Linked DNA regions of Homo sapiens. The protein of the gene in region 1 interacts with the protein of each later gene in a pairwise test. Each region holds a gene or a part of one and is shown in the gene's direction. Other genes may lie near its edges. The genes, in order: GLE1, LHX8, ING5, FAM3B, GPR75-ASB3, PDS5A and MTF2.

What was found.
Region 2: the proteins of GLE1 (region 1) and LHX8 interact in binary tests that used the Homo sapiens proteins (3 or more experiments, as listed by UniProt).
Region 3: the proteins of GLE1 (region 1) and ING5 interact in binary tests that used the Homo sapiens proteins (3 or more experiments, as listed by UniProt).
Region 4: the proteins of GLE1 (region 1) and FAM3B interact in binary tests that used the Homo sapiens proteins (3 or more experiments, as listed by UniProt).
Region 5: the proteins of GLE1 (region 1) and GPR75-ASB3 interact in binary tests that used the Homo sapiens proteins (3 or more experiments, as listed by UniProt).
Region 6: the proteins of GLE1 (region 1) and PDS5A interact in binary tests that used the Homo sapiens proteins (3 or more experiments, as listed by UniProt).
Region 7: the proteins of GLE1 (region 1) and MTF2 interact in binary tests that used the Homo sapiens proteins (3 or more experiments, as listed by UniProt).

The regions. Positions count from the first base shown.
Region 1 is NC_000009.12:128,531,544-128,535,948, forward strand, and holds part of GLE1 (mRNA export factor GLE1), read left to right. Parts: intron 1-1,121; coding exon of another isoform or gene 1,122-1,148; intron 1,149-1,969; coding exon 1,970-2,112; intron 2,113-2,217; coding exon 2,218-2,408; intron 2,409-4,405. UniProt on the Homo sapiens protein: Required for the export of mRNAs containing poly(A) tails from the nucleus into the cytoplasm. May be involved in the terminal step of the mRNA transport through the nuclear pore complex (NPC).
Region 2 is NC_000001.11:75,147,393-75,151,797, forward strand, and holds part of LHX8 (LIM/homeobox protein Lhx8), read left to right. Parts: intron 1-1,194; coding exon 1,195-1,290; intron 1,291-4,405. UniProt on the Homo sapiens protein: Transcription factor involved in differentiation of certain neurons and mesenchymal cells.
Region 3 is NC_000002.12:241,711,766-241,716,170, forward strand, and holds part of ING5 (inhibitor of growth protein 5), read left to right. Parts: intron 1-212; coding exon 213-306; intron 307-4,405. UniProt on the Homo sapiens protein: Component of the HBO1 complex, which specifically mediates acetylation of histone H3 at 'Lys-14' (H3K14ac) and, to a lower extent, acetylation of histone H4. Component of the MOZ/MORF complex which has a histone H3 acetyltransferase activity.
Region 4 is NC_000021.9:41,343,856-41,348,260, forward strand, and holds part of FAM3B (protein FAM3B isoform a precursor), read left to right. Parts: intron 1-620; coding exon 621-679; intron 680-1,830; coding exon 1,831-1,881; intron 1,882-2,353; exon of another isoform or gene 2,354-2,552; intron 2,553-3,157; coding exon 3,158-3,245; intron 3,246-4,405. UniProt on the Homo sapiens protein: Induces apoptosis of alpha and beta cells in a dose- and time-dependent manner.
Region 5 is NC_000002.12:53,669,391-53,672,883, reverse strand, and holds the end of GPR75-ASB3 (GPR75-ASB3 protein), read left to right. Parts: intron 1-2,193; coding exon 2,194-2,381; 3' UTR 2,382-2,591; downstream 2,592-3,493. Other genes in the region: ASB3 (ankyrin repeat and SOCS box protein 3), read left to right, coding at 2,194-2,381. UniProt on the Homo sapiens protein: Probable substrate-recognition component of a SCF-like ECS (Elongin-Cullin-SOCS-box protein) E3 ubiquitin-protein ligase complex which mediates the ubiquitination and subsequent proteasomal degradation of target proteins. Recognizes TNFRSF1B.
Region 6 is NC_000004.12:39,901,125-39,905,529, reverse strand, and holds part of PDS5A (sister chromatid cohesion protein PDS5 homolog A), read left to right. Parts: intron 1-1,338; coding exon 1,339-1,490; intron 1,491-3,069; coding exon 3,070-3,183; intron 3,184-4,405. UniProt on the Homo sapiens protein: Probable regulator of sister chromatid cohesion in mitosis which may stabilize cohesin complex association with chromatin. May couple sister chromatid cohesion during mitosis to DNA replication.
Region 7 is NC_000001.11:93,120,388-93,124,792, forward strand, and holds part of MTF2 (metal-response element-binding transcription factor 2), read left to right. Parts: intron 1-161; coding exon 162-285; intron 286-4,405. UniProt on the Homo sapiens protein: Polycomb group (PcG) protein that specifically binds histone H3 trimethylated at 'Lys-36' (H3K36me3) and recruits the PRC2 complex, thus enhancing PRC2 H3K27me3 methylation activity.

The DNA.
Region 1 (4,405 bases):
GGATGTCGCCGGGTGTGGTGGCTCACACCTGTAATCCCAGCATTTTGAGAGGATGAGGCAGACAGATCACTTGAGGTCAGGAGTTTGAGATCAGGCTGGCCAACATGGTGAAACCCCGTGTCTACTAAAAATACAAAAATTAGCCGGGCGTGGTGGCACACACCTGTAGTCCCAGCTACTTGGGAGGCTGAGGTGGAAGAATCACTTGAACCCGGAAGGCAGAGGTTGCAGTGAGGTGACATCGAACCACTGCACTCTAGCCTGGGTGACAGAGTGAGACTCCAGCTCAAAAAAAAAAAAAAAAAAAAAGATGGATGTCCATGAGTGGTTAGAATTAGAAGAAATCTTAAATAAGGACATGATGTTGCTGTGGCATGGGGAGGCCACGTCAGTCTAGGGTTGGAAGCTAACTAACTTTCCTCCTACCTAGAGAGGTATGGAGAGAGGCTAGATGCTAGATGGGGCATTCAGCCAGTGGGGTCCACATGGTTGGCTTTTTTTTTTTTTGATAAGAGAACTGAATGACAGGATATTTCTGAAACTTTTGTGACATTTCTTGAAGTGATTAGGAACTTGACAGGGTATTTCTCAACTGGAGATGCTGTATTAATTAAAACATTGACTTCAGGACTTCAGGTAATGGAAAGTAATTCAGATCTGCTTTGCTTTTTTTTTTTTTTTTTTTTTTTTTTTAGGGAGGAGATGGAGTCTTGCTTTGTCACCCAGGCTGGAGTGCAGTGGCACAATCTCGGCTCACTGTAACCTGCGCTTCCTGGGTTCAAACGATTCTCCTGCCTCAGCCTCCCCGAGTAGCTGGGATTACAGGCACCCGCCACCACACCTGGCTAATTTTTGCATTTTTAGTAGAGACGAGGTATCACCATGTTGGTCAGGCTGGTCTCGAACTCCTGACCACAAGTGATCTGCCTGCCTTGGCCTCCCAAAGTGCTGGCCCAGATCTGCTTAAGCAAAAAAAAAAAAGCATTTATTGGAAAGATAAAGAAATATCCTACAGAACCCAGTGGCAGGAATGAGGTGAGGTCTCAGGAGCTAGAAACTTTAGTTCTTTTTTCCTCTCTCATCTCATCTGTCCTCTCTACATCTCCATTCTTATTTTATAGATTGCCGTTCTTTGGTCTTCATGGCAGGTACGCAGCCCCCACTGCTTGTGAGTGTATGTGACACAGGGCCAGCTACCTCAAGGAAGTGACTCTTAGTTGACTGACTGGCTCAGCTTGACTGCCTCTAATCTAACTGTAGCTAGTGTGGGGGTGGAGCACACAAAATCTTTGGTACAAATATAGCTGTTACGAATCCACTTCTGTGTCTCTGAGGACGGAAGAAGGCAAGTCCTGAGAAGGGGGCATATCATCATGAGCTGGTTAGATCCTTTAGAAGGTTTTTCCTAGAGATGTGACTAACTCCTCTAGAGATACCAACCACAGTCCATGGGGTCTGTAACAAAATGTAACACCTCTTTCTATACTGTTTATCCCTTCATTTTATGTGTACAGTAAGGGATACTGTTTATCCCTTCATTTCTGTAGGGCAGCACAGCTGGGTTTTTGTAGATGCTTTGTAATTACAATGATGAAACAGGCTGGGCATGGTGGCTCACGCCTGTAATCCCAGCACTTTGGGAGGCCAAAGCGGGCGGATCACTTGAGGTCAGCAGTTAGAGACCAGCCTGGCCAACATGGTGAAATCCCATCTCTACAAAAAAAAAAAAATACAAAACTTAGCCCAGTGTGGTGGCGGGCGTCTGTGATCCCAGCTACTCAGGAGGCTGAGGCAGAGAATTGCTTCAACTCGGGAGACGGAGGTTGCAGTGAGCCAAGATTGTGCCACTGCACTCCAGCCTGGGCAGTAGAGTGATACTGTCTCAAAAAAAAAAAAAAAAAAAAAAAAAGGAAAAGAAAAAGAGATTGATCTGTGGTTATATCTTTTAATTTCTCTCTATCATGCTCAGGCTCAAAACTGAAGGAGATCTTTGACAAGATCCACAGCCTGCTCTCTGGAAAACCTGTTCAATCTGGTGGGCGCTCTGTGTCTGTCACACTTAACCCACAGGGGCTGGACTTTGTTCAATACAAACTGGCAGAGAAATTTGTGGTGAGAAACCTTGTTGCTAGAGGTATGGGAAGCAGAGGCTGGTGTACAAGATTTCAGCCTTTTTCTGGTATTAAGTTAAAATTGTACCCACCTCTATGTTCTCAGAAACAAGGCGAGGAGGAAGTGGCCTCTCACCATGAAGCAGCATTCCCCATTGCAGTTGTGGCATCCGGGATCTGGGAGCTCCACCCCAGAGTGGGGGACCTCATTCTTGCTCATCTACATAAGAAGTGTCCTTACTCTGTTCCTTTCTATCCCACTTTCAAGGAGGGAATGGCTTTGGAAGACTATCAGAGGTAAAGTTGTTTTTCTCCCTACTCACTATCCCTAGAGTGATTAATGAAATATAAATAGAATTGGAATTTGTTTTTCCCTCCTCACAGCTCCTATTACGTACCTTGAATGTTCTATCAGAAATATAATGTCTTTCGGCCGGGTGCAGTGGCTCATGCCTGTAATCCCAACATTTTGGGAGGCCAAGTTGGGTGGATTGCCTGAGCTCAGGAGTTTGAGACCAGCCTGGGCAACATGGAGAAACGCCATCTCTACTAAAAATACCAAAAATTAGCCAGGTGTAATGGTGCACACCTGTAGTCCCAGCTACTCAGGAGGCTGAGGCACGAGAATTGCTTGAACCCGGAAGGCGGAGGTCGCAGTGAGCCAAGATCGCACCAGTATACTCCAGCCTGGGTGACACAGCAAGAGTGTGTCTCAAAAAAGAAAGAAAAAATATATATACATAGTCTTTTATGTAAACTGGAGAGCCTTTGGGATTTGTGAACTTAGGTGCCAGTAGTCAATGTAGTTTAGTGGAAAGGATACTGGGGTCTTGGAATTTTATCCCTGCTTTGTCATTTAATACCTTTGCAAAAATGGACAAATCATTTAGTCTTTTTGAGCATCTTTTCCTGATTTTTAAATGAGGGTAATGACATCTATTACCTCCTGTGAATTTACCTCATGGCTTACATGAAGCTCAGATTTGATGATGGATATGAGTGCTTGGTAAACAAAGTATTCTACAGATGTAATAATATGTAATAATATATATACATATTTTTTATTTTTTTTATTTTTTTTTGAGACAGCGTCTCGCTTTGTCACCCAGGCTGGAGTGCAGTGGCGTGATCTCAGCTCACTGCAACCTCTGCCTCCTGGGTTCAAGTGATTATCCTGCCTCAGCCTCCCGAGTAGCTGGGACTACAGGCGCCCACCACCACGCCCAGCTAATTTTTATACTTTTAATAGAGATGGGGTTTCACCATGTTGGCCAGGATGGTCTCGATCTCTTGACCTTGTGATCTGCCCGCCTTGGCCTCCCAAAGTGCTGGGATTACAGGCGTGAGCCACCACGCCCGGCCTGTAATAATATATTAATAGTAATGCTGAGTGTAATAATATATTGTTATTTTTTAGCCATAAAAAGTAATCTCTGGGCCAGGTGCAGTGCCTCATGCCTGTAATTACTTTAACAATTTGGGAGGTTGAAGCAGAAGGATCGCTTGAGCCCAGGAGTTCAAGACCAGCCTGGGTAACATAGTGAGACCCTGTCTCTACAAAATTAGCCAGGTGTTGGCTGGGCGCGGTGGCTCACGCCTGTAATCCCAGCACTTTGGGAAGCCAAGGCCGCCAAAGCGGGCGGATCACCTGAGGCCAAGAGTTTGAGACCAGCCTGGCCAATATGGGGAAAACCCGTTTCTACTAAAAATACAAAAAATTAGCTGGGCATGGTGGCAGGCACCTGTAATCCCAGCCACTCAGGAGGTTGAGGCAGGAAAATCGCTTGTACCCAGGAGGTGGAGGTTGCACTGAGCCGAGATCATGCCATTGCACTCCAGCCTGGGCAACAAGAGTGAAACTCTGTCTCAAAAAAAAAAAAAAAAGGCCAGGCGCGGTGGCTCACATTTGTAATCCCAGCACTTTGTGAGGCTGAGGCGGGCAGATCACCTGAGGTCAATAGTTCAAGACCAGCCTGGCCAACATGGTGAAACCCTGTCTCTACTAAAAATACAAAAAATTAGCCAGGTGTGGTGGCAGGTGCCTTAATCACAGCTACTCGGGAGGCAGAGGCAGAAGAATCGCTTGAACCCGAGAGGCGGAGATTGCCTGAGATCGTGCTATTGCTTTCTAGCCTGGGCGACAAGATGGAAATTCCATCTCAAAAAAAAAAATTAGCCGGCTATGGTGGCATGTGCCTGTGGTCCTAGCTACTCAGGAGGCTGAGGCGGGAGGATCACTTGAACCTGGGTGGTGAAGTTTGCAGTGAGCCTTGATCATACCACTGTACTCCAGC
Region 2 (4,405 bases), on another chromosome or scaffold:
TAACTCCTAGGGATACGAAAAATAAGACATTCCCCTTGATCTCAAGGAACTCACTTTCCACTATGGAGATAAACTTGAAAACAAATTATTTAGCTACCCTGTGACAAGTGCAGTGGCAGAAGATAGCATTATATGAGGAGCATAGTGGAGAATGCAATTAATTTTGCCTGCTGAAAAGAGTGAAGTCCAGCAGTGCTTGAGGTCTTTAATAGATTGGTTACCCACATCCTATGCCTGTAGACAAGCACAATCACATTGGGTGCCAAGCTCTTCTCTCTCATTCTTCATAATAATACATTTTTTACATTTTGTAATGCTTCCCTCAGTTGACTGACTTTTAGTAATAAAATTCAAGTATCTCACTTAATTCTCATAATGATTCTCTTTTCTGAAAGAATTCAAAGTTTTTGGCTTGTGCTTATATTCTGGTACTCTCTCCCACACTACTCTTCTCCCTTTATCTTTTATTATAGGTAGTCATTGGCATGTCGGCATCTTTCTGCCAGGAAATTAAATCCAAAGAGTTTTGTTTCATGTTTCACTATCTCTTAGCACTTGGCATAGTGGTTTCAATCCAAAGGCTTACATCAGAATCACCTGTAAGCTTTTAAAATATATACATGTTTAGACTCTGGTAAATTCTTATTCAGTGGACTGGTGAGTGTCTCTTTTTAGACACCTTTTTTTTTGCATAGAGCTAGTGCTCAAAACTATGATGGAGTTGTTACAATTAAGTGGAATCCTTCTGTTGATCTGTATACTATTAGGTATTAGGGGCCTTGAACATCTTTAGCTCAGGAAAGGTTGGAGACAAATGTGATATGATTTTTGTATTAAGTTTTCAAATGTTGGCAGTTTTTAACAAAATGGAAAAAACAATAAATGAAACTCTTGCTATTTGATTTGTGGGTTATAAGATTGAAAGAAAAGAAAAGGTGAGCTTATTTTTAACAGCATAGTTGAGAGAGTTTTACATTGAAATGGATTTTTTTAAAGTTCTCAGCATAGCAACTTGTGTATAAATTTACAAAATATGCATTCGTTTTCACTTACCCATATTTCCCCATACCGATTTTCAAGTAACAAAAGTATCCCATGTTCTTGTGCATGTCTTACCTCTTATGATAAAAATGCAGGAAGAAGACTGAGCTGCTTGTTTTTAGCTATTTACTACATACATGTTTTAAACAACAGGTTATGCAAGCACAATTTGCTCAGGACAACAACCCAGATGCACAGACACTCCAGAAATTGGCAGAAAGGACAGGCTTGAGCAGACGTGTGATACAGGTGATTACTTTACTTTTTTTTTTTTTTAAGGTTTTTAAAAAATAGATATTGGGTCTCCCTATGTTGCCCAGACTGATCTTGAACTCTTGAGCTTAAGTGATTCTCCCACCTCAGCCTCCCAAAGTAATGGGATTACAGGATGAGCCACTGTACCTGGCCACAGGTGATTAACTTAAAGGTCAATCAAGAGAAACAAAAAGTTCTAATTCTGGGTATTTATAAGTATGCATTGGTGTTTTTTTGTGTGTGAAGAAATGTGAAAACATTGCTTTTTCATTTTAAGTCTCTTCACATTCTAAATCAAATTTTTAAAATGTAATGATTATCCTGCTTGGGCTAGGCTACCATTTGTCAAATGAGTCTTTGCTCATGTTACTTCATTCAGTACTCACAGCAACCCTAAGATCCTCAGGCTAAACATGTTCCAAGATAAATCTTGCTCTAAGGTCAGTGTTTTTCCTACTTTTTTTATGATTGTGTGTGTGATGGCTGCTGATGGCCTTTGCCAAAGATCCAGGGAGAGGAACTGGTGTGAACAAAGCTGAAAAGTGATGAATTAGTGCAAGTTTTTTCAAATGTAGAATTTATGTTTGGAAATAGTGGGAAATGAAATTGTTGGAGTTAAAGTTGGAGAGGCCTGTGAATGCAGAGTTCTCTTATGAGCAGGTAAAAGCCATGATATGTGATTTTAGGAAGAAAGGGCTAGTCACAGCACATGGGAAGAACTGGAGTTGGGAGAGACTAGATAGAGGTAAGCAGCTTAGTTGGAAGGCTGGAATGCCCAGCAACGTAGTGTGGTTTTGTTGTTGTTGTTGTTGTTGTTTGTTTTTTGTTTGTTTGTTTCTGAAGAGACACTTTACTGGGGTAGAATTCATTTGGGAAACTTTTTGAAACAGGGTCATGGGTGGCCTAGGCTGGAGTGCAGTGACGCAATCACAGCTCACTGCAGCGACCTCCAGGTCTCAGGTGATCCTCCCACCTCAGCCTCCCAAATAACTGGGACCACAGTTGCACACCACCACGCCTGGCTAATTTTTAAATTTTTGTAGAAACAGAGTCTCACCGTGTTGCCCAGGCTGGTCTCAAATTCCTAGACTCAAGTAATCCTCCTCCCTTGGCCTCCCAAAGTGCTGGAATTATTGGCAATGAGCCACCATGCCCAGCTGAGAAACATTTTATTGAGTGAACACTGATGACAGTTGATGGATGCTAGAAAGACAAGAAAGAATTGGTAACTGCAATGGGGAAGCAGAGAGGAGTCAAAGAGTAAATGACTCTGCCAGGCTCAGTTGCTCACACCTGTAATCCCAGCATTTTGGGAGGTCAAGGCAAATATGTCACTTGAGTACAGGAGTTTGATACCAGTCTAGGCAAGATGGTGAAACCCCATCTCTACAGGAAAAAAAACAGCCAGGCATGCTAGTGTGTACCTGCAGTCCCAGCTACTTGGGAGGCTGAGGTGGGAGGGTCACCTAAGTCCAGGAGGTTGAAGCTGCAGTCAGCCATGATAGTACCACTGCACTCCAGCCTGGGTGATGGAGTAAGATCCTCTCTCAAAAAAGTCAGTGACTTATAAATTTCAAGTCAAAGTAATCTTGGGAATGGTGCCATTGACAGGAATGTGAAAGTCAAAAGAAAGCTGGATTGGAAGTTGGACCCTTTTAGCTGTGCTAATTATGCAGTGATGGTGGCAGTTAACTATGCAAACAGGTATTTGAAAGAATGAACAGGACTCAAGCAAAGAGATCTAATGCCATGAAATTAGATAAGATCCTTTAGAAAGAGATCATAGGGTATAAAAGGTGAAGAACGGGTTTCAGAGAGGAGAGCAGGGTAAGAGGTGCTATTTAAATGGGACGTAGTAACAGCCAGAGTTGAGGAAGGAGTCGGGTGGAGAAGAAGCATGGAAGCTGAAGAAGTGGGGTGAATTCAAGAACGAGATGGCCAGCTGTGTCAAGATTATCAGAGAGACCAGGGAAATGGAAAATAATTTTATTTCTTTTTTTTTTTTTTTTCGAGACAGAGTCTCTGTCACCCAGGCTGGAGTGCAGTGGTGTGATCTCGGCTCACTGGAACCTCCGCCTCCCGGGTTCAAGCAATTCTCCTGCCTCAGCCTTCTGAGTAGCTGGGATTACAGGTGCAAGCCACCATGCCTAGCTAATTTTTGTATTTTTAGTAGAGACGGGGTTTCACCATGTTGGTCAGGCTGTTCTCAAACTCTTGACCTTGTGATCCGCCCGCCTCAGCCTTCCAAAGTGACGGGATTACAGGGGTGAGCCACCGTGCCTAGCCGGAAAATAATTTTAAATAACACCGGAAGTTCAAAAAATTTAAGGAGTGAAAGCAAGTAACCATAAAAGGCAAGAGGAAACTCAGGGAGGGGAAAGGCAAATGTCTTCATTGCACATATTTTATTTTGTTTCTTAATTTGGGTGGTTGATACATGGGTACTTATTCTTCTGTAAGCCTAAAGGTTTCATAATTAACAAATCACCTGTACGAAGAAGCAGATGGAAAAGACCTGATGATACTGCAGCTTCTCTAAAGACCTAGGGTTCACAGTGTTTTAATTGACTGCAAGGTAATGAGGCTGTCTTAGGAGACAAGTTCTACCACTTCAGCACTTTCAGATATCCAGATTATTGTGCTTATTTCAGAGTGCCAAATTTTAAGAAGGGACTAATAAGCAATCTGAAAAACATACTACCTCAAAGGCTACCAGGGTTGTGAAAGATTTAGATCATGCCATAATATTAAAGGCAGCAGGGATATTTATCTGGAGATAAGGCCAGGAGATGGTAAGAGAAAGAGTAATATCCAGAGTAGGTGTCTTTAAATATTTGTGAAAGGCTTCCCTGCAACGGAATGTAGAAAAAGGCACTGGTGTTCACTCATAATGAATTTTCTCATTATTGAAAGGCTACACAAATGGCACGGACTACCAAGGAAGGTAGTGAGTTTCCTCTGCCTGGGAGAACAGTTTTCTTTGGCAGGTAGTTCCGACTCCACGGGCTAAAAGTTCCTTCTAATTTAAGACTCTGTATATTCATAACAATGATAGCTTCAGGTAAGTCAGATGCATGACTTATATCATTTTGAAGTTGGAAGCAAAGAA
Region 3 (4,405 bases), on another chromosome or scaffold:
TGGTGCACACCTGTGGTCCCAGCTACTCGGGAGGCTGAGGTGGGTGGATTGCTTGAGCCCGGGAGGTCAAGGCTGCGGTGAGCTATGATTGCTCCGCTGCACTCCAGCCAGCCTGGGAGACAGAGCGAGACCCCTTTTTAAAAACAAAACACAAAACTTGCCTTGCTTTAGAGAATTCTATAAAAATAATTTGCATCTTGATTATTTTTCAGAAGGCCGGGGTCAGAAAGAAAAAAGAGGGTCCCGGGGCCGAGGCAGGAGGACATCAGAGGAAGACACACCAAAGAAAAAGAAGCACAAAGGAGGGTAAGAGGCTTTCCCCTCTTTTTCCCAAAAGAACGAATACCCATAGCCTGTATCCCGGATGTAGGAACACTGATGGAAGCTGACCCGAGTGAAGTGCACCCCGTGTGCCGGGTGGTATTCTGATTCTTACGCTGCGCGCCTGTCGTCAGCCTGTCCTCACCGCAGCCTTTGAGGGGGTGCCGTTGTCAGGGGCATTTTCAGTGTCGCAGGGACCTGCCCAGGCTTTAGGGCTGCTGTGGTGCGGCTGGGCTGCACCTGGAGTCTGACTCCAGTGCCTGTCCTCTTAGCCACAGTGTGTGCTGCCCCACTAGGGACAGGAGGATGGTGAGCAACGTGTTGTTGACAGAGGCCAATGTAGACCACTCTTTAAGTAGCTAGATTTCTGTATATCTGTCAGTTATTTTATGTGTCAACATATAGTGTGCATATATTCATTGTTAATTATGTGGCCACATTTATTAAATAGACATGTCATTTAACTTGAAGTTTTTTGAGATACTTTATTTAAAGCATTCTCCCACTGACACCCTCCCTGCCAAAGGTGTTGTATACCCTCCAAAGAGATCGTAGCATTACCTCAGAGGAGTGACATTTAGACTAAAGAGAAAATGCTGAAATGCCACGAAGCCTCTGTGGAGATGATCTCACAGAGGGAGGGTCAAAGAGTGTAAGTTTTGGGCACGGTAGCTCATGCCTATAATTCCCGCACTTTGGGAGGCCAAGGCGGGAGGATCACTTGAGCCCAGGAATCTGAGACCAGTCTGGGCAACCAAGTGAGTCCCCCATCTCTACAAAAAATAGAAAAAATTAGCTGAGGGTGGTGGTGTGGGCTGTAGTCCCAGCTACTAGGGAAAGCTGAGCTGGGAGGATCATGAGCCACGATCGCACCACTACATTCCAGCCTGGGCCACAGCATGAGACTCTGTCTCAAAAAAAAAAAATAAAGAGAAAAAAAGAGTTCTTCTTGACAAAAAAGGGACAATTTTCTTTTTTTTTTTTTTTGAGATGGGGTTTCGCTCTTGTTGCCCAAGCTGGAGTGCAATGGCGCCATCTCGGCTCACTGCAACCTCTGCCTCCCAGGTTCAAGCGATTCTCCTGCCTCACCCTCCTGGATAGCTGCAACTACAAGTGCGCACCACCATGCCCGGCTAAGTTTTTGTATTTTTAGTAGAGATGGGATTTCACCATGTTAGCCAGGCTGGTCTCGAACTCCTGACCTCAGGTGATCCACCTGCCTCGGCCTCCCAAAGTGCTGGGATTACAGGCATGAGCCATCACACCCGACCCAATTTTCAGTTTTTTTTTTTTTTTTTTTTTGAGATGGAGTCTTGCTCTGTCCCTCAGGCTGGAGTGTGGTGGCGCGATCTCAGCTCACTGCAACCTCTGCCTCCCAGGTTCAAGCAGTTCTCCTGCCTGAGCCTCCCAAGTAGCTGGGACTACAGGTGCATGCCACCACACCCAGCCAATTTTTTTTTATTTTTTGTAGAGATGAGGTTTCACCTTGTTAGTCAGGATAGTCTTGATCTCCTGACCTCGTGATCCACCTGCCTTGGCCTCCCAAAGTGCTGGGATTACAGGCGTGAGCCACTGTGCCCAGCCCCAATTTTCAGTTTTTTAGCTAGTGCTTAGCCTTTTGGCCGGGCGAGGTGGCTCATGCCTGTAATCGCAGCACTTTGGGAGGCCAAGGCAGGTTAATCACCTGAGGTCAGGAGTTCAAGACCAGCCTGACCAATATGGTGAAACCCCGTCTCTACCAAAAATGCAAAATACTTAGCTGAGTAGTTGGCAGCTGCCTGTAATCCCAGCTACTCGGGAGGCTGACGCAGGGAGATTGTTTGAACCCGGGAAGTGGAGGTTGCAGTGAGTCAAGATCACACCACTGCACCCCAGCCTGGGTGACAGAGCAAAACTCCGTCTCAAAAAAAAAAAAAAAATCCCAACATTCTCGTATTGTAAAGTAGTGCACAGATACAGAAAACCGCACAGAACAAACATGGTTTAATTAATTTCCGTAAAGTGAAGATCTTTGTAAGTAGCACCTAGTCAGTGATTAACTGCTGCTGGAAGGCCTTCCATATGCCCTGTTAAAATCATAAACTCCTCCTGCCCCCAAATAAACATGATCCAGATTTCTATAGTGTTTATTTCCTTGTTTCTTTAATAGTTTTATAGTGCATTCCTAGACACTATACATTATAGTTTAGTCCTGTTGTTTTTCTAACCTTTTAAATTAACTTTATTAAGGAATAATTTACATACAATAAAATGTTATTCTAAGTGTACAGTTTGATGTTGCATTCAGTTCCTTTAAAGTTATGGAAGTATTCAGGCTTTCTATTTCTTCTCGAGTCAGTTTTGGAAAAAATCTGTGTCTTTCAAGAAATTTGTTTCATGTAAGTTGTCAGATTTTTTTGACATCAGGTTGTTAATAATTTTGCATTATTATGGTTCTGATGTGTCTGTTATGATGACCCCTCTTTCAGTCCTGATACTGGTAATTTATGTTTCTCTCATTTTGTCTTGATCCTTTTTTTTTTTTCCCTGAGGGCAGGGTCTAGCTGTGTCACCTAGGCTGGAGTGCAGTGGCATGCACATGGCTCACTGCAGCCTCCACCTCCCTGTCCCCAGGCTCAAGTGATTCTCCCACCTCAGCTCCCGAGTAGCTGGGACCACAGACATGCGCCACTATGCCTGGCTAATTTTTTGTAGAGACAGGGTTTCATCATGTTGCCCAGGCTGGTCTCAAACATCTGGGCTCAAGCAGTCCGCCTGCCTCAACCTCTCCGTGTGTTGAGATTACAGGCGTGAGCCACTGCGTCTGGCCGTCTTGATCTTTTTAGAGAACTAGCTTTTAGTTTCATTATTTTTATTGTTTTCTCTATTTTTTTGTTTGCTATTGCATTTGTTTCTACTCTCTATTTCCTGTTTTCTACTCAGGTTTACTTTGCCTATACTATTCTAGCTTTTTAAGGTGGAAGTAGCTTGCATAATTGATTTTTATATCTTCCTTGTTCTAATTATTATCTTTGTTGCACTCCACAAATTTTGATATATTATGATTTTGATATAATTTTGATATTGTTTTAAATTTTTATTTCGTTTACCTATTTAAAATATTTTAGAATGTTTTTCTTGTTTTTTGAGATGAGGTCTCACTCTGTCACCCAGGCTGGAGTGTAGTGGCATGATCCTGGCTCACTGCAGCCTCCACCTCCTGGGCTCAAGAGATCCTCCCACTTCGGCCTCCCAAGTAGCTGGGACCACAAGTGCATGCCACCATGCCTGGCTAATTTTTTATATTTTTGGTAGAGATGGAGTTTCACCATGTTGCCCAGGGTGGTCTTAAACTCCTGAGCTCAAGTGATCCACCCACGTTGGCCTCCCAAAGTGCTGGAATAGAATTTTTTTTTTTTTTTTTTTTTTTTTGGTGAGACGGAGCCTCACTCTGTTGCCCAGGCTTGAGTGCAGTGGTGTGATCTTGGCTCACTGCAACCTCCACCTCCCAGGTTCAAGCAATTCTCTTGCCTCAGCCTCCTGGGTAGCTGGGATTACAGGCACGTATCACCATGCCTGGCTAATTTTTTTTTGTATTTTTAGTAGAGACAGGGTTTCACCATGTTGGCCAGGCTGGTCTTGAACTCCTGACCTCAGGTGATCTGCCTGCCTTGGCCTCCCAACATACTGGGATTACAGGCGTGAGCCACCGCACCTGACCTAGAATTTTTTTTTTCATGCTACTTCTTTGCCCTATAACTTATGTAGAAGTATGTGTCTCAATTTCCAAATAATTTGGGATTTTTCAGATACCTTTCTAATTTTAATTTTTTAGTTGACTTCTGTTGTGGTCAAAGAACATTACATAATTGAAATCCTTTGAAAGCCAGCTAATTTTTGTATTTTTAACAGAGACAGGATTTCACCATGCTGGGCAGGCTGGTCTCGAACTCCTGACCTCAAATGATCTGCCCACCTTGGCCTCCCCTCCCTGTAAAGTGCTGGGATTACAGGCATGAGCCACCGCACCCGGCCTTCATTGCAATATTTGGTCTGTTCATATTTAACATAATTAATGATATGGTGGGATTTAGGTTCACCATCT
Region 4 (4,405 bases), on another chromosome or scaffold:
GTCTATAATCCCAGCACTTTGGGAGGCTGAGGCGGGCAGATCACTGGAGCCCAAGAGTTCAAGACCGCCCTGAGCAGTATGGCAAAACTCCGTCTCTACAAAAAAATTTTTAAAATTAGCCTGTTGTAGTGGTGCACGCTTGTACTTCCAGCTACTTGGGAGGCTGAGATGGAAGGATTGCTTGAGCCCGAGAGGCAGAGGTTGCAGTGAGCCACGATTGCACAACTGCACTCCAGCCTGGGTGACAGAGTGAGACCCTGTCTCAATAAATAAATAGATAATAAATTAACAATAAAGTGCATCTGTGAAGAGCCTGAGCTAAATAAATGTTAGTTTTTCTTCCCCCTAGCCATTTGTCTAAATTATAAGATTGAATGCAGTGTCCAGGTCCCCTGAGAGTCCAGGTCCCCTGAGGGACTGAGTCTGTAGACACTGAGAATAGATGTGTGTGGATGAACATGGGGGTGGCGGTCTCGGGAGCTGCACCAAGGCGAATGCAGACTTTCAAGGAAAAGGTGGGGGACAGCAGATGAGACTGACATTTGGTCAGGCGAAGACTTCGCGGAGCGGGGAGAGTCGCACGCCTCTTGGTACTTGACTAATGCTTAGCTCCATTTCAGACTTATGGGAGAACAGCTGGGAAATGTTGCCAGAGGAATAAACATTGCCATTGTCAACTGTAAGTTACTAAACATTTTCTTTAAACTTCTCTAAAAGCTCTCTGGTCAGATTTTCAAAGGTACCTTGGGTTTTCGAGACTTTTGCGCGTGATTTAGTCTAGGTTTGTATTTTAATGCATTTTAAGATTATATACTCAATTATTTTTACAAGTCTCACTTCACAGATTATTTGTGGTTCTAACAACAAATAAACAACTGAAAACCAAATATAGACTTTATTTTAAAAAAAGAAAAAAACAGAGGGATAGGCCAAAGTTAGGGTTAACACCAGAAGGGCCGCCAAGGGGGTGCAGCCTGTGGTCCTGGACTGAGCCTCTCATTTGCTCCCAGAGTCCCAGTGTCTGCTCAGGGGCTGACACCATAGACCATCTCATCCTTCTGTGTGATAAAAGCCACTGCAACCTCGTGGGAAACAAAACTTGGCCTTTCTCTTAGGTCTGGAATAAAGCTCTCTCACAGTTGCCTTTGAGGGGCCCAGAGGAGAAGGAAAGGGTTTCCCACAACGTCCCTGTGAGTGAGTGGGCCGCATAGCCCCGAGACGTGAGGGCTGTGGAAGTGAAGATAAAATGCTCCCAATCTGACAGCCCTGAAGGAGGCTGTAAAGTAGGAAGTGGGCAGGCTGAGGGGGCTCTGGTGTTTCTGTGGGATGAGGCGGGTGGGCCTGGCTGAGGGGGCTCTGGTGTTTCTGTGGGAAGAGGCGGGTGGGCCTGGCTGAGGGGGCTCTGGTGTTTCTGTGGGATGAGGCGGGTGGGCCTGGCTGAGGGGGCTCTGGTGTTTCTGTGGGATGAGGCGGGTGGGCCTGGCTGAGGGGGCTCTGGTGTTTCTGTGGGATGAGGCGGGTGGGCCTGAGTGAGGGGTCTCTGGTGTTTCTGTGAGATGAGTTGGGTGGGGGAGGTATTAGTGTTCCATCAGGTGTAACCCAAAGCAAACTGGAAGAAAGTTCTAGCACAGCTTCCAGCACTTTCCTTTGACCTGGTTTTGGGGACTCTCCTCAAGGGGCCCGCCCTGTCTCTGCAGGCTGGGTCATTACATCAGTGGTGTTTGCTGGAGATAGACAGGGAAGAAATATTTCCTTCCCCAGGCCCTGGTGCCACAAGTGCGCCCTAGTTCTGTGAACTTTCTTTTAAAATACCATTTCTTTTATTTTCAGATGTAACTGGGAATGTGACAGCAACACGATGTTTTGATATGTATGAAGGTGGTAAGAAAATTTTTTCTGTTAAAATTCAAATGAATTTTAAACAGAAAATTAAGATTAAAAAGCACAAAGAAAAATGTCAACCATTTTTATTTTGTCTACTAGAAAAACGCCAGCAGCTCTCCTGAGTAATCTAGAGTGGTCTTATGTAGATCCTCTTAAACTCTAATTGAATTCATAGAACATTTGAAGGCATCATCTAGAAATGTCTTTTCTTCTGTTAGTTTTCCTCAGTCTTTCTCTTTTTAGCTCTCATGATATAATAAGAAAGAGAAAAAGCCTTTTTTTTAAAAAAAAAAAAAAGCCAAATACATTATATGTAAAATAAAGCCACCAGCATCCAGCCCTAAATATCATCATCCTTTGAAAGCTGTCACGATTACTCCTGGTGACTCACAGTGCTCTGCTGGGCTCAGGGCAAGCATTCCCGGAACCCACGGGTGCCCAGTCTTTCTCGATGGTCTCTCCTTTCTAGGCACTGACTCTTGACTGCAGTTGTTGGCCAGGATATACTATCCCCTCTTATTTTTATATATCAATGAGACTTTCAAAAACAAGTTTTTATAAAGATAGTGAAGACGAAGAATAGAAAACGCCTGCACCCACCCAATAAGAAGGACACAGTTGTACTCTGCAGTTAACCTAAGCAGAACAGTAAATAATGAGCCGCAGCGGTGAGTAACAGGGTTTGAGGTTTACCTTTATTTTATAAGGCATAGATAAGTCTCTTGGCACAGACTTGCCCACGGTCCACATGTCTCGTATTTGAGTTCTGTGGGAGTCTCTCTCCTGCACACGTCGGTGTGTTTGCAAGGCCACTCTGCTCAGTGGTCGTGGTGTGGGTGTGGGTGTGGCCCTTTATCAGTGACTACAGAGAACACTCCACCTGTGCCACACAGGCTGCTGCTTGTTAAGAGTTTGGTGATCTCATTTCTAAGGAGGGTTTTTTTTTTCTACCAGGGGCTCCACTTCTCTTGTTTGTTGGTCAAAAAAGCTCCTTATCTTGACCCCCTTTCACTACTGCCCTGAACACCTATTGCAAGTGTTAGGTTCTTTTCCTTCTACGCTGTGCCACTCACCTCAGATAGTCCCTATGGTACCCCAGTGAATGTTCACACGTCCAGAGCTAGCACACCATCTGCAGGGTTGAGCAGCGAGCGCTGGGACCCCCAAGGATTCAGAATGGACACAGAATGCAGGTGCAGGAGGAAGCCCAGCACCCAAGGCAGAGCCTCAGTGAACAGCAAAGACCCTAAAACTGACTTGCATCCCCCAATAGATAACTCTGGACCGATGACAAAGTTTATTCAGAGTGCTGCTCCAAAATCCCTGCTCTTCATGGTGACCTATGACGACGGAAGCACAAGGTGAGTGGGTGTAGGTCTGTCACAGCGGTGGGCAAGAGAAGCCAGCTGGGGCAGAGGCTGCCAGGGTCTCTCAGTGACATCCTCTGGGGACAAGCAGAAAGTCCAGGAGCAAAGTACTTCTCTAAGGAAAAAGAATGAAAGATCATGACAAAATAGATGGCATTTCTTTAAAAAAAAATTAAATCACTAACCACAGAAGTACTAGAACCTAAATCAAAGGAGTATTTCAAGGAATCAAGACAAAGCCACTGTTGACCATAATTAGGACAGACAAACTAACCTCCGGACAGAAAGCCTAAACCCAGGGTGGCATTAATAGTTACAGCAATGTGAAAGGAAATTGAGATAATTTCCCTATAGAAAGAGGAAAAGAGGCTGGGCGCAGTGGCTCACACCTGTAATCCTAGCACTTGGGAGACCGAGGCAGGCGGATCACGAGGTCAAGGGTTCGAGACCATCCTGGCCAACATGGTGAAACCTTGTCTCTACTAAAAATTAAAAAATTAGCCAGGCATGGTGGCATGCACCTGTAGTCCCAGCTACTCAGGAGGCTGAGGCAGGAGAATCGCTTGAACCCAGGAGGCGGAAGTTGCAGTGAGCCAAGATTGCACCACTGCACTCCAGCCCGGTGACAGAGCGAGACTGTCTCAAAAAAAAAAAAAAAAAAAAGAGGAAAAGAATAAAGAAATACACACATACACATTCAATACTGTACTAGAAGTGGATGTAGCTCAGTGCCTCTCAGAGTGTGTCCTACTAAGTAAACCAAACCTGTGTCTTTGCTGCAGAATGTCTAAGAACCTTCAAAGTGCTTATTTGTGTGGTGAATTTCCCAGACAGGGCTACTGACCACAGCATTTCCCAAATTTATCAGATTCCTTTTTTCATGGAGCATCTTACCAAACTGAAGTTCCTTGGCACATACTTTGAAAAATTCTGACTTAACTCACTTAGAACAATCTAAACTTAACTGTTTACTTTCCTGTCTACCCTCCTGTCACTTCCTCTAAATCTTAATGTTTGCAGTGGCAGTATTGTTTTACATTTCTTTTTCCTTTTTGATGTGGACTTTTCTGATTATGAAAAGGGGGCAGTTTTGGCATTTGCTTTCATCTTTCAGCAACTTCTCTCCACCTTATTTTGTGGTCACTAAACAAGGG
Region 5 (3,493 bases), on another chromosome or scaffold:
CTTGATAAAGATAAGCACAGAACAGAAATAGATATTGAATTAGACGTGGCTACAACAACTGAAAGCAAAAAAACCTGTAAAAATATGGAAGGATTATGCACTCACCTTGTTTCATACATGCCTTTAAATCCATGCTGTAACTCAAAGAAAGTGAAACTGTGTCCTTATTTATATAGTGGTGAGTAAAAAATACATAAATAAACTGCAAGCCATAGATGTTGCATTCTAGATGTGTTCATGTATCCATTTTAAATTAGAATGTTTAAAGTATGTATGGTTGTTGTGGTCACCTGCTTTAAGGTGAGTTTCTATTAACTGACCAATTATTGTTCATGATCCTACTAAGAGGGCTTCCTTATACTTGATAGTTGAACATAGTCAATCTACTTAAACCTTTGGAAAACGGTGGTGTTTGCAGCTTGGGCCTGCTTTCCATATGTATTCCTGCAACTTCCTCCAGTGGCCCCTTTACCTGTGTCTTCCCATCTTTCATGTGAGAACCATCATTTCTCCTTTAAGTTTACAGAAAAGTGTCAAATTTAAGTAAGATATGGATATGAAAAAAGTTAGAAATAAATGTGCGTGCTATATACTATAGATACTGTAATCTTATTATTTATAATAGGGAATCTATGACTCATGATTTAAGAAAATGCCCAGCTTAGACTTAGGTTTTATGTACAAAATCGATAACTTTTGCTTTCTTATTTGGCATTTTGAAACACCAGTTTGAGTGATTTCTTTAATTCTGAATAAACTAAACTAAACCTAAACTAGTAAACTAAAAACGATGATGAGTTAACTTCTATGGCTTGGAAGATATTGAAGATGTTAGAGAATTAATTGGTCTCAAGCCCTATGGGTATTAGAGTTTAAAGAACCCTATACCTGGAATCAGACTAGCTGGTCTGGTATCAGCTGTGCTCTTGATAGTACTTGTCTTTGATGCTCTGATCCTGGTCTGTTCATCATTGTTAAATTTCACAGGGATTTATAAAAGATTTCTTGAATTAACAAAAGGCTTTGGTCCGATTCACATAAAAGCAGACATTAACTTCTTTATTTAACACTTTTCATCTTGGAAAATGAAACTGCTATCATATGATTCTTTTCTTTTTTTTTTTGAGAAGGAGTTTCCCTCTTGTTGCCCAGGCTGGAGTGCAGTGGCATGATCTCGGCTCACTGCAACCTCCGCCTCCCAGGTTCAAGCAATTATTTTGCCTCAGCCTCCCTAGTAGGTGGGATTACAGGCATGTGCCACCACGCCAAGCTAATTTTGTATTTTTAGTAGAGACGTTGTTTCACCATGTTGGTCAGGCTGGTTTTGAACTCCTGACGTCAGGTGATCTGCCCGCCTCAGCCTCCCAAAGTACTGGGATTACAGGCATGAGCCACCGCGCCTGGCCTATCATACAGTTCTTAATTATGTGCATTTGAATTGTCCTTTAATTGGTAGTTAGCTTTTGGCTGCACTGCCTTGCCAGATACACACACACACACACACACACACACACACACACACACACACACGCTTTGGGTTCAGATAGATCTGAGTTTGAATCCTGGCTCTGCTGCTTACTAGCTCTGTGACTTTGGAAAGTTGTTTTTTTAAATTTCTACAACAGCCTGATAATATATACTTCATGAAGTTAATGAAGATAAAAAGAGAATTTGAGTGAAGTACATGGGCTTATGGCATAGAAGGCACTCAGTAAATACTCCCTTTCTCTCAGAGTCAATTAAAAATTTTCATTTTATGTTATGGATAAAAAGGAAAACTTGCAAGCTGTACATCTATTCACTTGATGTGATAGGTCTGGAAACCATTTGTAATGAAATAGATTAAGAGGAAGGTAGCATTTGCTATTGTGAGCTTCCACCATTTCTAAAGTTGGTTCATCCATTTCTTAAGTGCAGGTATTAACAGATCTTTAGAATTTGAGCATTTAGTGTTTGCGGCCCTGGATACTGACTTTGAATGTGTGGCCAACAAACTGAAGGGAGAGGAGCCAGTTGAAGGCTGTAGAAAAGAATAAATAAGGTTTATTGTGGTCATACTGACTCAAAGTAGTCTTCTTTCAAGCAATATATCACTTTTATTACTAAGAGTTGGGGGAAAAAAAAATTTACCTTTATGTGCTATTACATCTTTCTGTTTAAAAAAGTTTCACCTTGCTTTTTTTGTTTCTCCAGCCACTGTTCCATCCCTGACCCATCTTTGTCGTTTGGAAATTCGGTCCAGTCTAAAATCAGAACGTCTACGGTCTGACAGTTATATTAGTCAGCTGCCACTTCCCAGAAGCCTACATAATTATTTGCTCTATGAAGACGTTCTGAGGATGTATGAAGTTCCAGAACTGGCAGCTATTCAAGATGGATAAATCAGTGAAACTACTTAACACAGCTAATTTTTTTCTCTGAAAAATCATCGAGACAAAAGAGCCACAGAGTACAAGTTTTTATGATTTTATAGTCAAAAGATGATTATTGATTGTGAGATAGGTTAGGTTTTGGGGGGCCAGTAGTTCAGTGAGAATGTTTATGTTTACAACTAGCCTTCCCAGTAAAAAAAAAAAAAAAAAAAAAAAAAATTGTAAACATCACTTATATTACTTTATTGCAGCTTCATCACCAGTACATTATATGTTGTAATATTTATTTACCTGATCATTTTGATCATTTTCTGCTTTATTTTGCTAATAAACTGTGATGTTACTTCTAGTGCTAAACATGGCATATTTCCACCTATGATTCGTGTTTACCTGGTATTAGGAGCTCAGAATGGAATGCATAAAGCTTCACTGGAAGTGTATACAACTGTGGTGTAGAATCTGTTATTATTATCATTATTATTTTATTTAGACTTGACTATCTCTTATGTTTATTAAAGAACATGTTTTCCTATTCAGTTGCTTTTTTTTTTTTTTTTTTTTTGGAGACAGAATCTTGCATTGTCACCGAGGCTGGAGTGCAGTGGTGCAATCTCGGCTCACTGCAACCTCTGCCCCAGGGTAATTCAGTCACTTTTATGAAGAATTGATACTCATTGCCGTTTCACATGTAAACTCACAGGAAAAAATTACTTTGAAAGAACATAGAAAATCAATCATATTGCTGGGTTTTCCCTTCCAGTTTCTTTTCATTCTTTGGCAAAACAAACAAACAAACAAAACCAACCAACCCAATTCTAATCTGCAAAGGCAAGAACAGCCCTAAACTCAAAGATGTGCTCAGCTGGGAAAAAAAATGGTTTCAGTTTTGAGATAAATGGGCATGTTAGCACAATTAGGATTTTAATCAGGAGACTGAGAGGGGCATGTCTGTGGCACCATCTTTAAAGAAAGAAAGGGGCCGGGCGTGGTGACTCACGCCCTTAATCCCAGCACTTTGGGAGGCCAAGGCAGGCGGATCACGAGGTCAGGAGATTGAGACCATCCTGGCTAACATGGTGAAACCCCATCTGTACTAAAAATACAAAAAAATTATCTGTGCA
Region 6 (4,405 bases), on another chromosome or scaffold:
CTGGAGTGCAGTGGCGCAATCTTGGCTCACCGCAACCTCCGCCTCTCAGGCTCAAGTGATTTCCCTGCCTCAGCCTCCCAAGTAGCTGGAATTAGTGGTGCGTGCCACCATGCCCGGCTAATTTTTGTGTTTTTAGTAGAGACCGGGTTTCACCATTTTGACCAGGCTGGTCTCGAACTCCTGACCTCAGGTGATCCACCTGCCTCGGCCTCCCAAAGTACTAGGGTTACAGGTGTGAGCCACCATGCCCGCCCTTGGTCAGATTTTTAACTGACTCACTGCACAGCTGATTGGAAGCTCTGTTTGAGTGGGCAGGTTTTGTCAGCTTGTGAGCATATTTTTAGATTCACTGGTTAGTCAGCCAGCTCAACTCCTAGATTCACTACAATTTTAGATTTACTAGGATTTTAGATTCACTGGGTAGTCAGTTCCCCAAGTCCTGAGCTCAAGCGATGCACCTGCCTTGGCCTCCCACAGTGCTGGGATTACAGGCATGAGCCACCATGCCTGGCCCAGAATTCTTGATAGTGAACTTTGTTCTTATCCGAAGTTAACATCTAAAGGGATGTAACTGGCAATTAAAACATTCCAGATAATAGGGGTTTTGTTTGCAAGGGGAATTATAATCACTTCTAAAACTTGGTGAATTTTCTTTCAATAGAATCAAATGAACTCTCCCATAAGGTTATTAATAGTTTTCAAGGGAAATAAAAAATCAGTAACCTGTAGTTCTAGGTACTCAGGATGCTAAGGCAGGAGGATCACTTTAGCCCAGAAATTTGAGACCAGCCTAGGCAACGTAACGAAACCCCATTTCTTTAAAAAGAAAAAAGTAGATCATTTAGCAATATTTGCATTGGAAAATTTCTAAATAGGAACAGATTCAAAATTGTTTGTAGGCTGGGCGCGGTGGCTCACGCCTGTAATCCCAGCACTTTGGGGGGCCGAGGCGGGCGGATCATGAGGTCAGGAGATCGAGACCATCCTGGCTAACAGGGTGAAACCCCGTCTCTACTAAAAATAAAAAATTAGCCGGGCGTGCGGGCGCCTGTAGTCCCAGCTACTTGGGAGGCTGAGGCAGGAGAATGGTGTGAACCTGGGAGGCGGAGCTTGCAGTGAGCCAAGATCCTGCCACTGCACTCCAGCCTAGGCGACAGAGTGAGACTCCGTCTCAAAAAAAAAATAAAATTGTTTGTAAAGCCTCTTTTGAAGAGAAATAGTGTGCCAGTTTATAAAGGCACACATAAGACTGTACAACCTAATGAAGCCAAGGCAGTCTTTGGAGATTAGTACAGAGTTTTGTTATCTTGCTCATCTAATAAATTTTATGCTTTTTAGTGGCGAGTAAGAAAAGAAGCTATGATGGGTCTGGCTCAGCTTTATAAGAAATACTGTCTTCATGGTGAAGCAGGAAAGGAAGCTGCAGAGAAAGTCAGCTGGATAAAGGACAAACTTCTGCATATTTATTATCAGAACAGCATTGACGACAAGTGAGTTTAATATGTTGGTAGAATGGTTGAGTGTAAAACTACTTTTTACTTAAAAAATGTCTATTTAATATTTTAGTAATTTCTTATTTTTATGTATTTACTTCATAAATAAAATTAAGTTTATTCAACTTGATTAATCATTTATTTCTAAGTTTAGAGATAGCTTTTTACATATTTTTATGTACTGTGTTTAAACAAGACTGTCCACGATTATAAGGTAGCCTTATAATATGAAATAGGCATGAACTTTGGAGTTAGAGACCAAATGTTCACTCTGCCCTTTATTAGATGTGTATTCTTACATAGGTTCATTAAGGTCTTGTGCGCTTCAGTTTTATATAAAAAGGAAAAATAATAGTGCCTTTCCCACAGGATTATCATGTAGATTAAATAAAATAATGAATATAAAGCATCCTAGCCCAATGTGTGGCAAGAGAGCACTATTGAGTTAACTGCTAGTTACTTTCCTTTTTACACCACTACCAATAGAGGAATTACTAAGTTGTTTTCATTTTCTGAATATTACTTATAATTCTATATTGGATCGTACAAATGATACTTGGTGTGTGCAGAATAGTTTCCATTGTTTTGTTTAATTAAACTAACTTCTCTGGCATCACTGGATATGTATTTCATTTGTTAATTAAGAGATCTTGTATATTCTTAATCCAGTGATATTAAATAATAGAAGCAAGAAGATACAAGCAATAGGTACTAGCAAGAAGGATATTCCAATATTGGTAAGGAATTTAGATCATGGAGAGAACAATAATCAGATGTACACAGGAAAAACTACATTTTCTGGAAGTAATATGAAGGGGGGTCCCCCTGTTTTTAACTATGTGACAACATGGAAAATGGGCTGAACTGTAATCAGAGGAAATTAATGAGTTTCTTGAGAATTAGCTCTACCGCGGATCATAGCTTTATATGTTGCGTTAATGAATTTGCTTTTGTTCTAGACTGCTGAAGAAGAATAGGCGGAACAGCCTAGCACCCTGTGTTTAGGAATAACATTTAAACCTTCTAGAACAAATGTTTCATACTGACAAATTATAAAGCCACAGACAGTAACCGTGTCTCTAAAGTTAAACTGTACTGAAAGCTTTCCAAGAAGGAAGTCATTATAAACTGATATCTTCCATTGTATGTGCACACATAGCTATTATCTTGATATGGTATCCTGGCATAAGATGGTTAAAACTTAAAATGTTGGCTGGGTGTGGTGCCTCATGCCCGTCGTAATCCCAGCACTTCAGGACGCTAAGGCAGGCGGATTGCCTGAGCTCAGGAGTTCCAGATCAGCCTTGGCAACATAGGGACACCTTGTCTCTACAAAAAATATAAAAATTAGCTGGGCATGGTGGCACGCGCCTGTAGTCCTAGCTACTGGAGAGGCTGAGGTGGGAGAATCGCTTGAACCTGCGAGACAGAGGTTGCATTGAGCCGAGTTTGCACCACTGTACTCCAGCCTGGGTGACAGAGCAAGACCCTGTCTCCAAAAAAAAAAAAAAAAATTGCTTCTTAAAAATGGAATAATTGTGTCACTTAGGTTTTTTTTGTTGTTGTTATTTCCTAGACTGTTGGTAGAGAAAATCTTTGCTCAGTATCTTGTCCCCCACAACCTGGAAACAGAAGAGAGAATGAAATGCTTATATTACTTATATGCTAGTTTGGATCCAAATGCTGTAAAGTAAGTTACTTTTCAAATAACTGCTGTATTTTCTAAGGATTTCGTAAAATTACTTCATCTTATCTAATTAGTTGTTATTGATTGGATTGTTGCTGCTTCTATAGTTGAATCAAGAACCTCAGGTAAATATTTATAGACAAAATGTTACGATTTATGTTCAGGTTATTCTTATATGTGTAGGCTTGTTTGGCAGCCAGGTCAGTAGTAGGATGGTTTCAGGTGTTCAAATAAATGACCACGTCAAAATACCTGTGGCTAGTGTCTAAAACTACTGGTGCTTTATCCTTCCAGACTAAATATTAAGCCTAATAACTGAATACTGATTCTTTGTTGGGTGAACATATTCAGATCTTCTCTGTGTAAGATGGCCATATGATTAATGGTCCAACTGGATTATTTTCAGACTGAAAGGGATCACTATTGATATTTTTACTTAAATAGCATAATCAAACTGTCCCAGGCCAACCAGGATGTGTGGTCATTTCACTTTAATAGATTTTTTTTTTAAAGTAAATGTTACAATATATACATATATTATGTTGTACACCATCGTATATGTAATTTTTGTCAAAAATACACAAAGTAAATGAGTGATGTCATTAAGAATTCTGATCTGAAGATGGAAGGATCTTTTCAGCCTAGAAGCTTGACCATCCTGGGCAATGTAGTGAGATTCTGTCTTAAAAAAGAGAGAGAATTTTGAGTTAGGAATTTGACTGTTTGCCATTGTGGCTTCTTCAAGTGTTCCTGCATTATTAGATTAAGACTGCATTTTTAGGCCGGACGTGGAGGCTAACCCCTGTAATCCCAGCATTTTGGGAGGCCAGGGCAGGCAGATAATTTGAGGTTAGGAGTTCGAGACCAGCCTGGCCAACATGGTGAAACCCCATCTCTACTAAAAATACAAAAATATTAGTTGGGCATGGTGGTGCACGCCTGTAATCCCAGCTACTAGGGAGGCTGAGGCCGGAGAATTGCTTGAACCCAGGAGGCAGATGTTGCAGTGAGCCGAGATTATCCCATTGTACTGCAGCCTGGGCAACAGAGTGAGACTTGTCTCAAAAAAAAAAAAAAAAAAAAGAAAGAAAAGAAAAAAAGACTGTCATTTTGGCAGAAATTCTATTACGATAGTGTTGTATCATGGTTACTAATCCCTTTCCTTGCTTAAGGTTTTGATGTTTGTTTACATTTCAAAATATCTGACAAAGAGTGTTTAGAGATT
Region 7 (4,405 bases), on another chromosome or scaffold:
TTCTAGTTATTTTTATGTGTAGTGATTTATTGTATTGTGAATATGACTATCCACCTAAATATTTCTCTTTGCATTTTAATTACTGTTTTATAAGGAAACCGTGATTTTTTAACAGTAACCAAAAACATTGTTTTGTGTATTTGATTATTTTCGGATTCCAGGGTAGATATAGCACACCTATGCCTTTACAACCTAAGTGTTATTCATAAGAAGAAATACTTTGATTCTGAACTTGAGCTTATGACATACATTAATGAAAACTGGGATAGATTGCACCCTGGAGAGGTAGGTGGTCTGAGAACTAACTTCAGTAGCTACTTGATGTCTTTTTTGTTTTGTTTTGTTTTTCAAAAAACAACTGAGACACATGTATAAGTCAGACAACTAAAATAGAATTTTATTTTTAGTTCTGGGGACAAATAAGTTTGGTATGGATATCAGGACCAGCCTTCTCATCCTCCTGTGTGTTTGTTGCCTGTTGACTCTGGAAATTTGTAGAAGGAGGAGGTATATTATTTGATTCTTTCATTTTCTGAAGTGAAAGTCATTGTAGTTAAAGATAGAAGGGAGGGAGAAATCTTTAGTATTGGGTATCTTACTTGTAGTTCAACCTCCTTTTCTTCTAAGTTTTCTATAAACTTAGAGATATAACCAACATTCTTCCTTCCTCTCTTGTTGGTACTCCTTTATATATTTCTGACTTGTAGGAATGGTGGGATCTAATAATATTGTTAGAAAAATGAGTTGTAGAGTGAAGCTGCCTGAATAGAAAATTATCCCCTCTCATTCTGACATCTCATTTTGCTTCTCATTTTTGAAGTGTAACTACCTATGCTGGTTTACAGTCTTTTTTTAAATGAATTTAAAAGTAATGTGTGTTCATTAAAGAAAATTTTGAAACTAATGAATAGCAGAAAGAGAAAAGTAACTAGAATAAGTTTAATAGTTAGGGACCTTATTTTTAGCTTTTATTTAGAATTACTAAAGTACATATATTAACTACTTTTAGTTAAAACTAAAAAATTTGTTTTATAATATGGAATTTGATATGTATATCTTAGTCATGCTTTTTTTTAGGTAAAAATTTTGCACACTGATTTGAAGTTTAGGAAGAATTTCTTGATTTGTAGCTTTGAGACACGAAGGACATCCTATTTCATATCAAATAGGATATCAAAGGGCTTTTTGGGGGTTTATGGGATATCAGGGAGAACATAATGCATGATTTAGTTTGTAGTTTTAAAATCTAGGATATTATTGAAATTCAATTGATGAATTTTTGAATTCATCATTTGAGTTTTGAATGTTAGATATTGGATTATCATACAAATTTTTGTTAAGTTTTCTGTTAAATACTTTTTTTTTAGATGAAGTCTGAGAGAAAGTGAGTGATGTGTACATTTGATTTTTTTTTTTTTTTTTTTTTTTTTTGGAGACGGAGTCTTGCTCTGTCACCCAGGCTGGAGTGCAATGGCGTGATCTCAGCTCACCGCAACCTCCGCCTCCCAGGCTCAAGCCATTCTCCTGCCTTAGCCTCCTAAGTAGCTGGGATTACAGGCACCTGCCACCATACCCAGCTAATTTTTGTATTTTTAGTAGAGATGGAGTTTTGCCATGTTGGCCAGGCTGGTCTTGAACTCCTGACCTTAAGTGATCCGCCCACCTTGGCCTCCCAAAGTGCTGAGATTACAGGCATGAGCCACTGGGCATGGCCACATTTGATAAATTTTAATAAACTGATTAGTAATCAGAAAGTAAGGGGTAAGGCATTAGAAGTGGCTATAGTGGTTTTTATAATTATCTTAATATTTAATACTATAATACATTTGTTTAAAAATTCTTTCTAGCCATTATTCTTTTAGCACTTCATATGCAGATACATATGTATACCTGTTAGTACATTGTCTGCATTACATGATGAAATTCTGCAGTAGTAACTTGATGTAGACATTGGGTATATATAATATAAAAACTCAAGTTGTGTTTATTTCAAATGCTGTCCTTTTTAATTAAAATTTAAATTTTAGTGTTTAGATTTTATTTGAGAGGCTGGAAATATAAGAAAATGAAAATCACATTTAGTATATTTTTCAAGAAAAGAGTTCAGTTTATGAATTTTGGGTGTCCCAGCTCCAACTGAACTTCTGAAACATACTAGAAAAAATTTGCTTCAGTAATAATACATGTTTTTATTTCTGTAGCCTATGAGGTAATGTCTTAGAAAAAAAGAAAAAGTTTTGCAAATTATTTCCACTTTTTGACCATCAAATTTATTACTAAAACAAGAGACTAATAATTTCTTACTGTTCTTTCTGTGGATTAAAATAAGAAAATATTCAGACTTCTTAGATGAGACATCTCATTCACAGACTTTGGTAACTGACAGATTGAAGTTAAGGTTTCTAATTTTCTGTATTTTATATTTTTGTACTGTAATTATAATTGGATTTTAGGGTGAGTTTTTAATAATAAAGAGATGATAAAATTTATGCTAGTTTATCATGTTTATTCAGTGTTTTTCATTTAGATTACTTTCAAATGTTTGTAGTGATCAATAAAAAGGTAACATAAATAATGGGTCATTCCAAATTATTTGAATAGAAAATTTTTGATAAACTAAAAATGAATTACAAATTGAATTTTGTCACTAATCCAAATTTAGGTTAACAAAAATTTACTTTTGTTTATATTCTTGTTCCAAATCTTATAAAATGCCATTAATTATTTTCAAAACATGGGAAGTAGTGTATGCTAAATATAATGTTTATATTTTATAATTGAGTACCTTGGAGTACTTTAGTCATTTTGAACATCAGCTCTTTCTTTTTTTTTTTTTTTTTTTTTAAGAGACAGGACAGGAGAGTCTCTCTCTCTCTTTTTTTTTTTTTAAGAGACCCTTGCTCAGGCTGGAGTGCAATGGTACAGTCATACATAGCTCACTGAAGCCTTGAACTCCTGAGGTCAAGTTATCTTCCTGCCTCAGCAATTCTTGTTATACGTAATATAGACTAAAGCGCCTGCTCTAGAAATTTATCTTCAAAAATGAAACAAAATAGAACAAAGGTTGTGATTTTAGTTTATCTAAAATGTGGAGTTTCCTTCCTCTTGCCACCAGATCAGAGAAAAAATTTTGTAATGATATAAGTTGATTGAGATTTTTTATGGCATTTTGCGTAGGAATATATATTGCACAACTAGGCAGTTATCCACATTTATTATCCCTGAACTTTGAATTATAATTTTACATATGATGAGGCTGGCTAAACTTTAATGGTATTTTTTATTTTAGAAACCTAGTAAATACATATTTACATTTGTAATTACTTGCTGTAATCTTACATTGAATCAGTTGTATTCTGTTTCGTGTATTGTGTCCCCCCCCCCTTTTTTTAATAAAGGAAGCACTGTGACTGTTTTTATTTTAAAGACTTTTTTTTTTTTTTTAAGAGCAGATTTAGGTTGTCCCCTTCTGCCACACATGCATTGCCTCCTCCATTATCAACATCCCTCCACCATAATGGTAGATAGTTATAATTGATGAAGCTACATCAATACATCATTATCATCCAAAGCTGTGACTTCTTTTAGTAATAAAAAGAAGTTTCAAAAATATTACACTTTTGGAGATAATATCCTGTCATACTGAAAAGCCAAAATGTAACATTCATGTATCATATTTTTTTCTTAGTTGAATACGGTATAGGATTGTTATGAAGAGAAGATAAAACTTTTGAATCATTTTAGAAGATAATGGTAGTATTACATTGTTTCCTTATGTAGTTTTTGTACTTCTTTTGGCTTGGTACCTAATGATTATCATATAGATTGAGTGTAGCTGTTTGAGGAACTACTATGTTTTGGATTATTTTCTTTGAGATAGTAAAAATACTTAACATTTGAAACCATGATAAACTTTCTTAAGGTTTTTATGTAAAATGAAGTCTCATCTGTTGTATCAGATTGTTTTGGGGAGTTTAAAATGAGATATTAGTACTTTTTGTAATCGCTTATTGTCATTTGTGTTTGATTCTTAAAGTTATTTGAAATCCTAGTTCTGTAATAACCACTCTTCTGTGGTCTTAAATTTTAGAAACCCTGAGGTTGATACCAGAATAATTTATGGAGTGCTACTTCACTTCTGAGGGAGGTAGGGAGAAAAGCAAAGATGAAACTCAAGAAATACTGTGGTAGAAATGATACTAGAGGAAAATATACAATAGAGGTGGAATAATATTTATAAGTGGAAATTATAAGAAATCTGAACAAAAATTCCTTGGGGCTTAGAGTGTTATAATTAGCATATAGTATGGTGGTTAGCAACAAATTACCTAAGTTGTTGGGATACTTAAGCCCAGGTGGCTTGGAACTTAATATTGGTAGTTGAAAGGAAGAGTTATACTGTAAG